Linked DNA regions of Homo sapiens: region 1 is linked to region 2. The links come from fine-mapping of genetic effects on gene expression. A gene starts in region 2. The other region holds a variant in brackets. All regions are shown on one strand. Distances are from middle to middle. Region 1 has its middle 4.5 kb from the start of TRI-AAT9-1. Region 2 holds the start of PRSS16 (serine protease 16).

What was found. PIP is the estimated chance that this variant, and not a neighbour inherited with it, causes the effect.
Region 1: its variant is the best candidate, but not a certain one, in a credible set for the expression of PRSS16 in whole blood (TOPMed, PIP 0.76).

What each region holds. Positions count from the first base shown.
Region 1 is chr6:27,268,009-27,270,928 of GRCh38, reverse strand. It overlaps the pseudogene CDCA7P1. Among named protein-coding and RNA genes, the nearest start is that of TRI-AAT9-1, 4.5 kb to the left of the region's middle. The variant C/A (reference allele first, on the strand shown) is at 1,345.
Region 2 is chr6:27,246,028-27,248,947 of GRCh38, reverse strand. PRSS16 (serine protease 16) reads right to left here and starts at 1,247. Exons shown (of 12, transcript NM_005865.4): 1 at 1,141-1,247; 2 at 900-1,066; 3 at 2-101. The coding sequence starts at 1,210.

The sequences.
Region 1 (2,920 bases), 22 kb before region 2:
TGGTCTCAATCTCCTGACCTTGTGATCCGCCCACCTCGGCCTCCCAAAGTGCTAGGATTACAGGCGTGAGCCACCGCGCCCGGCCATGATGAAGTTTTATACCAAGAATTCAATGAGCCTACGCCTAAAGTTTCACCATTGTAATTTCCCAGGATGTCTTTCCTATATGGTATAGGAAAGACATCGAAAGATATCCTGGGAAATTACAATGGTAGTACTTTATATGACATATATGATAGACATATATGTCTATCATATATAGACTATATATATGATAGTCTATATAGGCTATATATGATATATCTCATATATATCATATATATCTCATATATGATATATATCATATATATCTCATATATGATATATATCATATATATCATATATATCTCATACATGATATATATCATATATATCATATATATCTCATACATGATATATATCATATATATCATATATATCTCATATATATCATATATATCTCATATTTGGTATATATCATATATAGTCATACATAGGCTATAAATATGATAGACATATATATCTATATATATCTATATTGTAAGTATAACACTGCCCACAAACCTTTGGATCATGATTGTGTAAGGGAGATGCTACACTTAACTTTAAGGCAGAAGAAATTAGCAGCAACTAGGACTCATATGTGACAACTTGTATCATAAGCACAATACATGGAATATATTCATGAGAGGCATCTGAAGTAATATGCTACACTCTGCAACAATTACCTAAGTTTCCCACATGGTTTTAAGACTTTTGTGCCTCGATTCTGTTAAAAATATCAACTAGTATAAACACTAAATCATATCCATTGGTTTTTTGTTTTTTGTTTCTTTTTGAGATGGAGTTTCCCTCTTGTCACCCAGGCTGAAGTGCAATGGCACCATCTCTGCTCACTGCAAACACCGCCTCCTAGTTTCAAGCGTTTCTCCTGCATCAGCCTCCTGAGTAGCTGGGATTACAGTCACCCACCACCAGGCCCAGCTAATTTTTATGTTTTTATTAGAGCCTGGGTTTCACCATGTTGGCCAGGCTGGTCTTGAACTCCTGACCTGAGGTGATCTGCCCGCCTCTGCCTCCCAAGTGCTGGGATTACAGGCATGAGCCATGGCTCCCAACCCACATACCCATTGTTTTTGCATAAACAAGTTAGAGGGCTGTTCTCTGAAATTCAATAGATATAGTTAATTAATACTACTACTGTGTTTTTAAGTGCTTAGGTTTCATGAGTGGACTGCAGGGCTATTTCAACTGCAACTAAATCAAATATGCTTTCATAAAATTGTCATTTAAAAAGACTTCAGAAACTAAGCAGGGGGAGAGGAC[C/A]ATTGGAAAGAGAAAAGGGTACTATGAATTGGAGGTTGTGGGGAGCAGAGGAGAAAACTGTAGGAGGGGAAAGTATAGCCAGCAATATTCGTTTAGTGATGCTCCAGAAACACATGTCTCTACTGAGATTTATCTTGATTGGAGCTTCTTATAAAGAGGCTGATTGTCAAGATTCTTGATGGAAGGTTTTTTTTTGTTTTTGTTTTTGTTCTTGTTTTGCTTCTTGATGGAAGTTTCTTATAAAACAGACTGATCACCAAGATTCTTAATTCAGGTTTCAAGCAATGACAAAATTGAAAACTTCAGCAAGAGAGATTTGAGAAGTGGAAGACAGGCAGTGAATTTTCCAATATTATGCTTGCATTTCAAATTCCTGTTTCAGACTTTTCAAGTAAGCATGCACATTCCCAAAGCCATTGTATTTGGCTAAATATTCAAGGACCCCAGTTTCCCACAGTCTATCTCGCTGCGAGCGGAAACTGCAGTTGCACGGCCTCGACAAGGCGGACAATGCCAGTTCGCATCCAGCAGAGTATTCCTGACCTCTTCACCACAAGGGTTTCTAAGGTCGGGGCCGCAGAACAGGCCTTGAAAGCCCCAACAGTCTGGGTTTCTGCAGTTTGTTTGATAACAATAGTTTTCTGGCGGCATTGATGACAAATAGAACCCAGCGAACGGTTATATATCTTCTCTTGAGAGTTGCTGCAGATGTTCTCCAAACCTTCCTCTGTAATTTCTTCCGGTGGCCGAATTATATGTGGAAGGATCATGGGTGATCTGGCGGGACGATTTCTGAGCATCTCAACTTCGTTCATGTAGCCGTCCACAATCTTCCTCTTTCTCACCAACATGTACTTAGCCTCTGTCTTTTCTTCCTTCTCTTCCGTAGGTAGAGCGCCAAGGGACCCGAGGATCCTGACCTTGACCTCTAAGAGGCCGAGCTCTCTCCATTCAGAATGTCTCCTTGAAGAAACATCCAGGAATGTTTACCTTGGGGTCTCCTTGATTGTGAGTTGGGGCCTGGCGGGGAATGTCTTCCGGGGAACAAACCAGAGAAGCTTCTAATACTGACATGCGTTTTACAAGCATTGCTTTGTTTTGCTTTATATTTCAAGCCCTTTCCTCAAACAAAACAAAACAAAACAAAACAAATTCATGGCACTTTCATCTTCTGAATCGGAATTGGAACCAGTCATAGAATTCCTTGAGGGTTTGGGGTACTCTGCTTTTTTATTGGCTGCTCCCCTGGTGTTTCGCCCTGGAAACTTCATCGCCTGCCTGAGAAGTCCAGAGTGTCTGCACTGGCTGCTGGTCCAGCAGCCTTCCTGGACTGACTGAAGCCTCGTGTTTGCAAAATTATCAGAAGCAAAGCTGTCATAATTGTCATGAGAGGATGACGAGGTTTCCATGGGAATCAACTTCACATATCGAATTTAAGATCGTCTTTACTCTGAGATCCTTTTGCGGCACGCGGAGAGCAGCCTTGCTGGCAGCGGAACTCTTGGTCTGCGCTTGGAGCCGGGAGAGCACGGTAGCGGCGCGCGTAGCGGTCACACAACAGGAGGAGCGGGAGGCG
Region 2 (2,920 bases):
CCTCTCATCACTGAGCCAGGCCCAAGGCTGCCCTCACCCCCTAGATGCAGGAATATGGGTCCATCCTGGCCAACCCAATGTTGGTCATTCACCCAGTAACGCTGAGAGGTGGGATGGGGAAGAAGAAATGGCACTGTGAGAGTCCTGACTTATTCTCAATTCCTCATTTGTTCCAGTCTCTCTTCCTAATGGATCTTTCCTTATGTACTTAACAGTGTCTGAAATGAGCTTGTTTATTTACTTGCTCACTTTTCCCCTGTTCATCTCCTCATCTAGAATGCAAAATATACAAAAGCAAATTTTTGACCTGGTTTTTCACTCTTATATCCCCAGAACTGAGGGAGTGGCTCTCACATTGAAGGAACTTGCTATTTCTTGAAGTAATAATTGTAAAATAAGAAATAAATGCAGATGGATTTAGGAATAAGATCCAAGTGGGATGATATTTGGAGACTAAATACAGAGGAAGCACTGAAAAATGGCGAATTTGTTCCTTCTTTCGATAGATATCTTTGAGTGCCTGTTGTGAGCTAGGTCTGATTCCAAAGCTGGTTCAAATTTCTGCTACCTACTGAGACCTGGTGGTAGGTTTTGTGTCCAGTCTGGACAGGGACAAGGGGGTAGGGAGGAGCAGTGAATGTGAATGACAGAGAGAAAGAAATGGTGAAGGGCAAGATCTGAGGGACAAAACGAGTGGGACCCCGAGGAGAGGAGAGAGTAAGGCCAAATCTACAAAGGGCAGGAAAAGGGATACTGACAGCAAGCATAACATGAGATTCAAGCAGAGGGATGGGGAGAACTGAGGTGTGGAGAGAGAAAAAAGTGCAGACTGAGGAAGAGATGAGGGAGACTGAGGAGAGGGCAGGATGGTTAGTGGACTCCCCGTCTCCCGGCCTCACCTGTAGGAAGGATCGTCTGTCGGACACGTTGAAGGGGTCCAGCAGTTGCTCCAGCCACCCCACTTTTGGGAGGGCTGCAGCACCTGGCCCCAGGCTCAGGCCCAGGCCCTGGGCAGAGCTCTCCTGAAACTGCTGAATGTGCTCACCCAGGCGCCTAAGAAGGGAGGCTGTGGGACATGGAGGGAAGGAAGTCAGGCTGGCCCCCTTAGGATGCCCTGCTTGACCCTCAGCCTCCTCTTACCTGGAGCCAAGAGTCCCCAGAGGGAAACCAAGAGCAGAGGGCCCAGCCACTGGGCAAGCCAGACGGCCATGGTGTTCGGGACTCTGTTCTCCCCCAGGAGGACCTTTATCTTATCCTCAGCAGCCGGGCCTTAAATCCATCACCTTTCAGCAGAGGCTCAGGTTTCTTTCCTTTCCTGGCAGGTCAAGCGTCTGTAGGAACTGCTAAAGCGGGGCAGGGACGCCAGAGTCTGTACACAGAGGCTGCTGATGCAGCATCGGAACTCCCAGTTTCTTCTCTCTGGGCCTCTCAGTCTGTTCTTCCCTCAGCTCTCAGTAGCCCTCGCTGTCTCAGTCTCCTCCTCTCCGCTCTTCGGTCTACCTTCTCTTTATCTCAGATTCCTCCTTTGCATGCCTTATTGTCCTTCAACCTCTGTCTCTCCCCACCTCAGCACCTCCTCTGGAACCCCAGTTGCCCACTTATTCTCAGTCTTTTCTTTCTGCCCCTCAGCATATCTTCAGTACCCCTCAGTTGTTCCCACACTCAGTCTTTCCGTCTCTTTTTTCTCAGTCCCCCATCTCTTTTTCAGTCTTTCTCTCCATACTCATCTCTTTGTCCCCCAATCTCACCTTGTCTATTTTCCAGCCCCCTCACTTTCTGCTCTGCTTCACTGTCCCGAGCTTCTCTGACCCACAATCTCACACTGTCCATAGACTCCTTACAGTTCTTTGAACATACCAGGCTTGCTTCTGCCTTAGGGTTCTTATTCTTGTTGTTCCCACCCTATGGATTGTGATTTCCCTATATACCCACGTGGTTTGCTCCCTCACTTCAACTGGATCTTTATTCAAAGGTCATTCATTCAGAAAGGTCTTCCATGGTCAGCTTTTTAAAAATTGCCAAACCTATGGCCCTCTTCTATTCCTTTTCAAACTTTATTCCTAATTCTTTTTCATGGGACTTATCACTATGAGAAATATTGTACATTTAAAAAGTTATTCCCATAAATTTAAAAAATATATCCAGAATCTGATGACTTCTCACTACCTTCAGTGCTACCACTGCTGAGCCACCATCATCTCTGACTTGGGATATCATGGAAGGCTTTTAGCTGGTCACCCTGTTTCTGCCTCATGATTTATTCTACACTCAGCAGACAGAGAGACAGAATTAAATATTAGCCCAATCATTCACAATCATTCACTCCCTGGTTTAGAACACTTCCCTGATGCCCCATCTTACTCAAAGTAAATCTAAAGTTTTGAAAACAGTTTTTAAAACTCTGTATGACCTGGCCCCCTGTTGTATATACTGTCATGATTTCATCTCCTACCCCTCCTGGGTTCACTGCTCCAACTGCATTGGACTATTTCATATTTCACAAGACTCACTCCTTCCTTAGAATTTTTGCTCTCCTTAGGATGCTTTTCCTCCAAATATCTGCAAGTCTTATTTTATCACTTCCTATAGTTCCCCATTCATATATTTTATCTTACCAAATGGGTTTTACCTGACCACCCTTATAAATGGCACAACACCTGAGACCCTGTCCCCTGATCCTTCTGTTGTCACTCCCTGATAGTGATGACATTTTATTGCACTTCTCTCCCAAACCATTCCCCAGGAAGTAAGCTTATTCTGGGAAGCAATTTTGTCTGTTTTGTTCACTGGTGTACCCATAACACCCAAACTACTTCAAGGCACTTGAAAGGTTCTCAATGAATATGCAGTGAGCAAAAGGCTATATGGATAAATTGATTAATTAATGAATTAGTTTTCTGCTCAGGAAAGAATTCCCTAA